2 separate regions of the Homo sapiens genome follow, and region 2 is linked to region 1. The links come from fine-mapping of genetic effects on gene expression. A gene starts in region 1. The other region holds a variant in brackets. All regions are shown on one strand. Distances are between the middles of the regions.

What was found. PIP is the estimated chance that this variant, and not a neighbour inherited with it, causes the effect.
Region 2: its variant is the best candidate, but not a certain one, in a credible set for the expression of LINC02478 in sun-exposed skin (GTEx, PIP 0.56).

Annotation. Positions count from the first base shown.
Region 1 is chr2:160,269,036-160,274,417 of GRCh38, forward strand. It overlaps LINC02478 (long intergenic non-protein coding RNA 2478), which reads right to left and starts at 2,860. Exons shown (of 2, transcript NR_103775.1): 1 at 2,685-2,860. RBMS1 (RNA binding motif single stranded interacting protein 1) reads right to left here. Exons shown (of 14, transcript NM_016836.4): 14 at 3,116-5,382. RefSeq lists an enhancer at 1,068-1,677.
Region 2 is chr2:160,229,888-160,235,269 of GRCh38, forward strand. No RefSeq gene overlaps it. Among named protein-coding and RNA genes, the nearest start is that of ITGB6, 32 kb to the left of the region's middle. RefSeq lists an enhancer at 571-740. The variant G/A (reference allele first, on the strand shown) is at 2,257.

The DNA.
Region 1 (5,382 bases):
AGCCACTGTGCCCAGCCTCTCCTTGGGTTTTATACTTATTTCATAGTTTTGATCATACTGTATCTACAGGTCTGTTCCTAACACTTTTTATTCACGTTATATCCTAAGCATTTTCCATGTCATTAAAATGTCCTCATTTTAAAATGACTTCATATTATCTTGCATGTCTTTAGCGTAACTACTGTCATTTAAAAAATAAAGCAACATAGGGATTTTCACTGGCTACAAGTTCTAAGAATTGTGGTATGTCTGAGAAGTCAAAAAGGAACCGGCAGGGCAGGGGAGACAGGTGAAGTCCCAAGTTCTTCCTCCGGTTTTGGGTTTTATCCTGAGTCAACTGTGGTACATCTGGAAGGTGAGTTGATGATGTGGAGTGACCAGGGCTGACGAGGAAGAGTTAAAGCTGGAAGGAATGCTCAACCCAGAGAAGAGCAGAGCCATGGAGTCACGTTTCCACACTTGAAGTATGACTGACTGACTCTGTGGCATCCCGGTTGGCAGCACTAAGGCCGGTAAGTGGGAATTTCAAAGCCACAATTTGGACTCCTCTGCAAACAAGTTTGAGAGCTGTTCCCTAAAGCTACCTGATGCCCTGTGAGGCAGGCAGTGCCTGGTCCCTGGAGGTGTTCAAGTAGGGCAGGTGGCTTCAAGGATACTAGAGGATAGGAAATCCCTGCAGTCTGGTTTATGGTCTGGGTCCTGTGTGAGCACTGGAATAGCCTACATCAAATCTTAAGTCTCTCAGAGTCGCATAAAACAACCGAATTCTTTAATTCAAAGCCACGTTTTCAATTCTGAGCAGCCCAGAGACCTGCCATCGCTTTCTCGCGCCGAGTCACGTGGTCTGGCAAGGCGCGCGGTTTCCTCCCTAGCCGCCCCCAGCTGCCCTGAACCTTCAAAGTCACATTTCAGTCACTCCCCAGTCTGACCAACAACGCTCACAATGAGGGCGCTGCCAGCACAGGCGACGGCCTGCGCTCCAGTCTTACGAGGAACCCCAAATTCAAGACCCCTGTGACCCAGGCCTGTGTGCCCCGACAGGCTAAACCTCCGCCCAGGGGCTTCCCGATGTCGGCTGCAGCGGGTCTGGGTTTTCGGCCTGCAGAGCTCGCGTCTGACGGCTGAGGAACAAAACACCCTCCCTCTAGCGGCTCAAGCGCACACACCCTCTTGCCTTCCGCAGCCACCGAGCGAGTCACGGGAGACACTCTGGAGCCATTTTGCGGGGCTGGAATTCCTTCGCCCGGCGGAGCTCGGCGCGCACCCGTCAGCTGTGCCGAGGACCCTGCGCCCGGGGGGCCCCGCGGCCACGTGACCCCCATCTGGCTCTCGGCCTGGACTGAGGGGGCTGAGCTCATCGCGTTGCTATTCGAGGGGCAGAGACTGCCTGGCCTTCCTCAAATCCTGAGCTCCCGGCTCTCCTCCCTCCCCCACCTACTTGACATCTCAGGCTTTTTGTGGAAGGGGCAGGGCGATTGAGAGGTCGGTGACCTTTGTCCCAATGGCGCTGGCTCTTTTCCTTTTTGGCTACCCTAATGGAATGAGGATATAATCAGTCATATCTTAACATTCATTGAGCCCCGGCTCAGGCTGGGAGGCACTGCCTTTCTCCTAGTGAATTTTAAATCAGTATTTGTGGGATTTAAGCTCCAGCGGATAAACCTAGAGCCACTGGCCATGAAGGGTGTGGCAGTGGGGTGAAAAACGGGACTCCCGCCTCCACTCCCTGGCTTTCCTCATTCCAGCCACTATAGAGGGGAAAATACGTAGACCACAGAGCAACGGCCACACCCTCTTTCCTCTCCTCCAACCCCAGAATTCCACTTCAGTCTCAGAGCTTTCAGCTAGGTGGGGTTTATCCCCAAACATGCCACAACCCCTCTAGTTATATGGGAGCGGTAACTGTGAACCACCATCGCTGGCTTGATCCTCCCTTTTCCGTGGATTGGTGCTCCTGAGTATGTTTACCGGTTTCAGTACATAACACAGCCAGATAGAGGGCCGCGGACTTCAGCGGCGAGAAGCTACAACAAAAATAGGGTGAACAAAAACGAAGGTGCCCAGGAGCCTGAATTGCATTTCTTTCTTACCTTTGGTCATAGAAAGGAGCACTTAGGTGTTTGGCTGGAACGCAAAGTGAGACCAGAGCTTACATTCTTAGCAGCCTGGGTTTGTCTCGAGAGGCCATGCTTCTCTCCTCCCTGACATTTTGCTCTCAGAAGCACCAGTTAGCATCAGAGGAATGTTGTTTCCTTCTCTGAAACAGCCATCAAGTACCAGCGATTTCTTGGCTCCGGCAAGTTAAGTGCTCTGACCCCTCCCTTATCTAACTCACCCCGCACACCATCCACATGGCAGGGGACGCAGCCAGAAATGGAGCGGACTGCATCTTTTCCTTGCCCACTCTTTTTATCACCATGACAGAGCCACTGGACACCAGGAAATAAATACTGAACCACCACACTAAAACGTTTACTCCACTTTGGGCAGAAGGAGCCTATTTTGCATATTAAGTGCCTCCTATAAAGCAGTCAAGTGAGGGAAAGAGGAGTTCTCGCTCCTCCGTGAATGCTGCACGGGAGCCTCCAGTCGGGAACAGCTGAACAGGTAGCTCTGAAAGAGGACCTTGGTCATAAACGCATAGATAAGATTATCCCGAGGTTCTCGCCCACATGCTTCCTTACCACAGGTGGGAGGGCTGCTGTTAGGCTGTCTTCCTTGCTGAGCATTGACAAGCAATGAAATAGTTGAGGCGTAGCAGCAAGAAAGGAGGAAGAAAAAGGGCCTGGTTTTTTGGTCTTTAAGAACAGACCACTAGTGGTGTATTTTGGGCTGGATATTTGCTGAGCCGACCGTTGACGTGCTGAGCTGACGGTTGACGTGCTGAGCTGAGGGTTGACGTCTCTGGTCATTACACAGATTTAAATAACCAGCAAAAGTGGGGTGGAAAGGTTTTTCCAATTGTTTTCAAGGAAATGTATTTTGAGGATATATTGAATCTGACATAACTTTCAACTCACTTTCAAACCAATCTACTGAGCTGAAGAAAGAGATCAGAAATGAAATGAAATTCTGATATACACTTAATCGACTTAAAAAAAATTGACAGGAAAAATAAAATTTCAGATGTTTTTTATTCAAAGGTTCTCAAAAGAAATAAAACAGAAAAGCTAACAATCTGATCAAATGTACAGTTCAAAAATGTCTTTTGGCGTTTAACAACAAGTCCTAGGAAAGAAAACTACAGAGTTATCTTGAACCGGACAAATAAGTTACCACTGGCAAGTCTGTGGCACTAGTAAAACAAAAATAAAAAATTAACTCTCTTGATCATATAGATATCTCTATGAAAATCTTTTTTTTTCAATCTGTACAAAAGGTCTTTCTTCATAAATTAATTTTTTTATAATTTAATGGCTGTCTACTATGTGATGTTTAACTGATTTTTTTTTTTTTATGTACAGAGGTTATGTTTCCCAAATCTTACCCAGACGAGTATGGCACTTAGTTCAGACATTTCTAGCAGCAGATTTCCCCTCCCCTCTAACCGAGCTATCAAATTTCTGTCTTAACTAATGCAAAAATATCAAGTAGTGAGAGACCCAGGTTTATAACTGTACTAGGTACACAGAGGGTGCTGCGTTCAGTCTGGACTTTCACAAAGCAGTAATATTCCAGGGAGCATAGAACCAATAATACCACAACTTTAAAAAAATGAAACAAAAACAAAAACAAAAACACATTTCTCTTATGACTATGTAATTTTCACTAGAATCTACACTTCTCAGAGCAGCAAGGACTTTTGAAACTATGAAATGTCACTGACATCTATCATCAAATACAAGCATAAAATTTAAGAACTAAAAAATACTTGAAAGAAATAACTGCTTAGCCCTAGCTCCTGAGCTAGGAGGATTTGGTCTGTGGAAACAGGGAGGGCCAGCAACCTGTCCCAGCACAAAAGAAAATAGACTCTGAGGTAGATAACTGATCATACACAGCTGACCAGACAAGTACACAGTTTTGGAAGACAACTTAATTTACCATTGCTTTTAAAACATATGCAATTGCCTTAATAAAAGAGCTTTAATAACAGTGAATTATCTTATATGTACTAAAGTAGAAATAACTGTGTATTTATGAATCAGGAATTTCATAGTTTCAAAATTGGTTTTCTTTACACTTGAACACTTGTAGTGATGATGTAAAGTGTGGCACTGCTTGGATCCAAATCTTCCTTCATGCTTTTTTGTTTGTGTGTGTCCATACATCAATTAAAATTATAAAACCTAAATGCAAAGGTACAAAAAAGGCACATTCTCCTAACCGCAAACTGGTCCGGCAAAAATAAAGAGCACAGAAGATGTGATGCTGAGACAAGTTGGAGCTACTGGTTACTGGCTCTTCGGTCTTTGGTGAAGTTACCTTTAAAAGTGCCAAGTCATTTTTATTTTTCAAATTTACCTAATAGAGAGAGAGAGAGAGAGCTAGTAGCCAATCGTTTTGCTTCTATTCGTTATCTCAGCTTATGTTTGAAGATAAATCCTTACTTTTAGCTTTTGCCACTTTGTTGCAATAGCAACATTTTTCGGTTTGCCAGATTTCAGGCATAATTCTCATTCTAAAGCACTATCATTAGTATAAAGGAAGGACAAAACATTCAGTGACTCCCCTCCCCCACCCCCATCCCCAACCCCAACACTACCTACACTAAATCTAGTACATCAAGTTAGCTTTTTTTTTTTCCTGAAAAAAGGCAAAAAAGACTTTACATTGCATCATACAGCAGATATCCTAAATCAGTCAAACTATCAGAGGAAACTGTTGGCGTACAGCCTTACAAACAATTTACCCTAATAAAAGTTCCCCAGTCAGAAAATGTGTTTCACACAAAACATTTTTCCCTTCTTGCATTTCACTACCTTACACATTATGTGAAAAATCATTAAAAACACCTACTACATATTTAAAAAAGCCAAAATTTCAGCAACTTTTATTGACTACCTTTTAAAAGCCCTATGCTGCTGTTTTACAAGGCATAATAGACCAGCTCATTTGGTCAAAGCATTCTACATCATTAGTTTGAACTAACTTTTACTGAAACAGCTACAGCATCAAAAGAGTTAAGGCAAATTGGAATTCATAGAAAAGGATAAGACACTTCACACTACGTTGAAAGAAAGACAGAAAGCTAAGAAAAGAGACACTGACGGCAACACTGAATTACAGCAACACTCGCACTGCAAGCACAGAACACCATGGGTGAAGTCGGACTATTTAAACTTCAGAAAGCCCATTTCATACAGCTGGAAAAAAAAAACACAAATTAAACACAAAATGAACAAAACCACAAAAATCCGGTCATGCACTTGGATAAGTCTT
Region 2 (5,382 bases), 39 kb before region 1:
AGGAAGTAGGAAGAGGAATTAAGATGGACATACAGATTGTAGTTATTTGAGCAAAGGAGAGGCAAAGTCACCAAATGGTAATGTATTTACCTGCCAGTCCTATATATTAATTTCCTCCACTGAAGAGGTTTGATTTCAGAGGGATTAACTCTTCTTTGGGGGGATTAAAAAATAATCTCAATAATCAAGAGATTTATTCAGCTCAGTGGTTCAATGGGTTTAAATCCAGAATGAGAACCCTAGAGATTGTCCAATTCTTAATTTACCTGGGCTGTTAATTTGCCACATGTGTGATCCTAGATATAATTATAAAGCCCCAGTTTCTTTTTTCTTTTTCACTTTTTTTTTTTTTAATTTTGCGATGCAGTCTTGCTCGGTTGCTCAGGCTGGAGTACAGTGGTGTGATCTCGGCTCACTGTAACCTCATCCTGAGTAGCTGGGATTATAGGCTCACGCCACCATGCCTAGCTAATTTTTTTGTATTTTTTTAGTAGAGACAGGGTTTTACCATGTTGGCCAGGCTGGTCTCCAACTCCTGACCTCAAATGACCTGCCTGCCTCGGCCTCCTAAAGTGCTGGGATTACAGGTGTGAGCCACTGCTCCTGGCTCCCAGTTTCTTCATCTTTAAAACATTTACCCAAATGTCTCAGAAAATGAAGTGTAAGATTTATATTCTCTCTCTTTTTCTCCATCTCTCTCTAACTAGGGTGGTGCCATGAATATCAAATACCCTATTTTCAAAGCTGTGATTGGCTCTGCCACTCACTACCTGTTGACTTTGTACAAGATGCTGAATTTCTAGAAGGCTGTTTCTTCTTCTTTAAAGCCTGGATAATAGTATGATTTGATAAAGGTATTATAAAGATGAAGACAGATAACATGTGCAAAGTGCCTAGCACAGAACTTGGCAATTCAATAAAATAAAGCTATTTTTCCTTTTGTTAAACTTGTATAGTTATTTACAGTTTATAAAGCATTTTCATGAACTTCATGATAACCTCTTAAGGTAGATGCAATTATCACCAGTTTTGGAGATAAGAAAACTGAGGCTAAGAAATACCACAGCCATGCTACAGCAGCAGACAGAGTCGTGCAGTCTATCAGGCCTATTTCAATGGCATTTACCCTCTGCTCTAGCTGTCTTTTGTGGTGGGACATGCAAACTAAAATGAAATAAATTGTATATTTATTACATACAATTCATAGTGAGCATTCAATAAATGTGGTTCGCTTCCGAATCTCATAAGGTAGCTAGTGAGGGCTCTAGGCAAAACTAGTAAGCTGGTCAATAATTTCTTAATTTTCTACCTCCGTGTGTCTGATATGGTAGCAACTACCAACATGTGGCTATGAGCACCTGAAATGTGGCTAGTCCAAATGGAGATGTGCTGCAAGTATAAAATACTCATTGAACTTTAGAGATTTCATGTAAAAATATGTAAAATACCTCACTGATAATTTTGAAAATCAATTACATAATGAAATGACAATATTTTGGTATGTTCAGTTAAATATTTCACCTGTTTCTTTTTACTTCCTCATAATGTGGCTACTAGAAAATGTTGAATTGCATATGTAGCTCACATTTGTGGCTTGTATTATATTTCTATTGGACAGAGCTACTTTATGTAACCCTTTGCCCTTCTAAAGGTGTTCCCTGGTCTCTTGGCCCTCCTCCTTCCTCACCAGGACTCCAAGATCCTCCTATCTGACGAATAGTGTTCTGCTCACCTACTTCATGCCAAGATGTTAATTTCTCTTTCTGCAGACAGTCTGCTTTTAGAAGAGGTACTGAAAGTGGAGGTTAATACACCTGGGTGTGGAAGAGATATTAAAGCAAGGATCAGAATTTCAAAAGTCTACAGGAGTCAGGATACTGTAAAGTAGACTAGGTGCAGCCTGCAATAGGGAGTGGTGCAGACTGTGGCAAACTGAAGAACACATGCCTCATTCAAAGGGAACAGCCACCACCAAACTCTAGCTAACTGTTGCCATATCAGAATTTGGGCCCAATGTGGCCAATCTTTTGATTTTTTTACGGGCAGCCAGAAATCTAGTTTCTTATGTGATGTCTTCTGATTTTCAAAGATTTGTGATGAAATACTTTCAACAAGCATTGTAAAGGGCCTATCAAATCTGCCCAGCGGTTCCATTTGGCCCACTTGGCCTCAGCTTCCTACCAAGGCTCACCTGGTGAGATGTGTGGTAATCTGGACAGGTAGTGCTTAAGACATTGGCTTTGGCTCTTGACATTT[G/A]TAGAGCTGGAAGAGTCCTGCTTTGTTATAGACAAGATACTAAGGCCCAGAGCAGACAAATGGCTCACTCTCAATCACACTATCACTCCCTTAGGCCAAGAATGCCAGACTCGGCTGGGCGCGGTGATTCATGCCTGTAATCTCAGCACTTTGGGAGGCCGAAGTGGGCGGATCACGAGGTTAGGAGTTCAAGACCAGCCTGGCCAACACAGTGAAATCCCATCTCTACTAAAAATACAAAAATTAGCTGGGCATGGGGGCCCGCGCCTGTAATCCTGGCTACTCAGGAAGCTGAGGCAGGAGAGTCACTTGAACCTGGTGGTGGAGGTTGCAGTGAGCCAAGATTGCACCATCGCACTCCAGCCCGAGCAGCAGAGCAAGACTCCGTCTCAAAAAAAAAAAGAATGCCAGACTCCTACTTTCTGTGACTTCAAAGTCACTGAGTCCTCAGTCTTTAAAACAACAGTCAGTAGGCAGCTATTGATTTGGCAAAAGAAAAACAACAACAACAACAGTCAATGTCTTCTGTCTGTCCCGAGGTTTGCCTCTGAGAAAGGCCCTTGGTGAGCTGGAACACTCTGCCAGGTGGGTAAGTCTTAGAGCAAAAGATGCTGTGTCCACACTGGTCTCTGGCTGGCTAGGGGAATGGTACAAATGGCTAATGTTCTTCATGAATTTCTCTCATACATCATATAACTTATTCTATAAGGACATATACTAATCATTTACAGAGTGAGCTGAAATCCCTATATAACCCAGGTGGAGAAAATCACCACACTGGTGAATACTCTTGTTATTTATGAGCAGGTGTACCTTCTAGACACCCGAGTTAGGCCCAGAGGGAGAAAGTTTCCTTAATCTGCAGTTGACATAAGATTTCTGTCTGTGTCATGCTCTCAATGTGTCTGTCCTCTTCCCAATTCTAAAGTGCAGATGGCCTAACCCAGACAGCAGAAAAAAAAATGCAGGTATGAAATTTAGCATTCTCTCAACACGGCATTTGTTCATTCTAGCCTCTCCTTTTGCAAATACATCTTTAGAGCTCTTAAGAATTAAACTACTTACTTATGTTATTGATAATGGTTCCAAAACAAATATCAGACTTTAAGTGATTTCAACCCTTCCTGCACAAACTCTGGGACTTTCCTAGGTGATGTAAGAGTACTGAGCTTTCTAGGTTATGGGAGCATTGCAGAGATAGGCAGAGTTAATTTTTTGATAATTTGTAATATCATGGCTTCTGGGGTTTTTAAGTCTTAGAGGCAATTTCTTTTCTATGAAGTGTCTTCAAAAGTTCACAAAAATTGCGTATTATGAAAAAAAACTGCATGCATTTCAATTTTTTTGCACCAAAATAAGCTCATATTAACTTGTTACAATATACCTGAAGATGATCTAGTTTAAGGGACTAGGAAGGATAAGACATATGCTGGGCAAGGTGATTCACACCTGTAATCCCAGAACTTTGGGAGGCTGAGGTGAGTGGCTCACTTGAGCTCAGGAGTTCAAGACCAGCCTGGGCAACATTGTGAAACCTTATCTCTACAAAAAATACAAAAATTAGCTGGGCATGGTGGTGTGCGCCTCTAGTTCCAGGTACTCGGGAGACTGAGGTGGGAGGATCACTGAGCCTGGAAGGCAGAGGTTGTCAGCCAACATCACATCACTGCATTCCAGCCTGGGTGACAGAGCAAGGGTCTGTCAAAAAAAAAGAAGAAGGATAAGACATAAATTCAAAGAGAGCACATATCAGAGCATCAAGAATTCTGCTAAAATTGAAGCAAGAACGAACATGAAATTTATGGCGAAGTTTGAGTGGAAGAATGGTGAAATCATTAATGATTTATGAAAAGTTTATGGAGACAATGCACCAAAGAAATCAGCAGTTTACAAATGGATAACTCATTTTAGGAAGGGTTGAGATAATGTTGAAGATGAAGCCCATGGCAGCAGACCATCCACATCAATTTGTAAGGAAAAAAATGTTGTTCATGCCCTAATTGAAGATGACCAATGATCAACAGCACAAACAATAGCAACACCACAGACATCTCAACTGGTTCAGCTTACACAATTCTGACTGAAAAATTAAAGTTGAACAAACTTTCCACCTGATGGGCACCAAAACCGTTGTACCCAGATCAGCTGCAGACAAGAGCAGAGCTTTCAATGAAAATGTTAAAACAAATGGGACCAAGATCCTGAAGCATCTCTTTTTGGAATGTAATGGGAGATGAAACACGGCTTTACCAATATGATCCTAAAGACACAACACAATCATAGCAATGGCTACCAAGAGGTGGATGTGGCCCAGTCAAAGCACAAGCAGACCAGTCAAAAGCAAAGGTCATGGCAACAGTCTTTGGGATGCTCAAGGCATTTTGCTTGTTGAGTTTCTGGAGGGCCAAAGGACGGCAAGGTCTCCTTAGTATGAGAGTGTTTTGAGAAAGTTAACCAAAGCTTTAGTAGAAAAATGCCCGGGAAAGCTTCACCAAAGAACCTCTCTCTATTATGACAATGCTCCTGCTCTTTCCTCTCATCAAACAAGGGCAATGTTGTGAGAGTTTCAGTAGGAAATCATTAGGCATCCACCGTATGGTCCTGATTTTGGCTCTTTCTGACTTCTTTTTGTTTCCTGACTTTAAAAATATTTTTTAAAGGGCACTCATTTTTCTTTAGTAGTAACTGAAGTATTAAACGTAAAAATGACTACATTGGCATGTTTAAGTTCCCAGGACTCTCAGTTCCTTAGGTATGAATTAAATGGCTGGTATCATCACTTATAAAAGTGTCTTGAACTTGATGGAGCTTATGTTTTCGTTTGTTTTGTTTTGTTTTGTTTGAGGCAAGGTCTCACTCTGTCACCCAGGTTGGAGTGCAGTGGCATGATCTCTGCCCACTGTAACCTCTGCCTCCCAGGCTCAAGTGATCCTCCCACCTCAGCCTCCCAAGTGGCTGGGACTATAGGCACACACCACCATGCCCAGCTATTTTATTTTTATTTTTTGTAGAGATAGGGTTTTGCCAAGTTGCCCAGGCTGGTCTCAAACTCCTGGGCTCAAGTGATCCACCTGCCTTAGCCTCCCAAAGTGCTGGGATTACAGGTGTGAGCCAGAAGCTTATGTT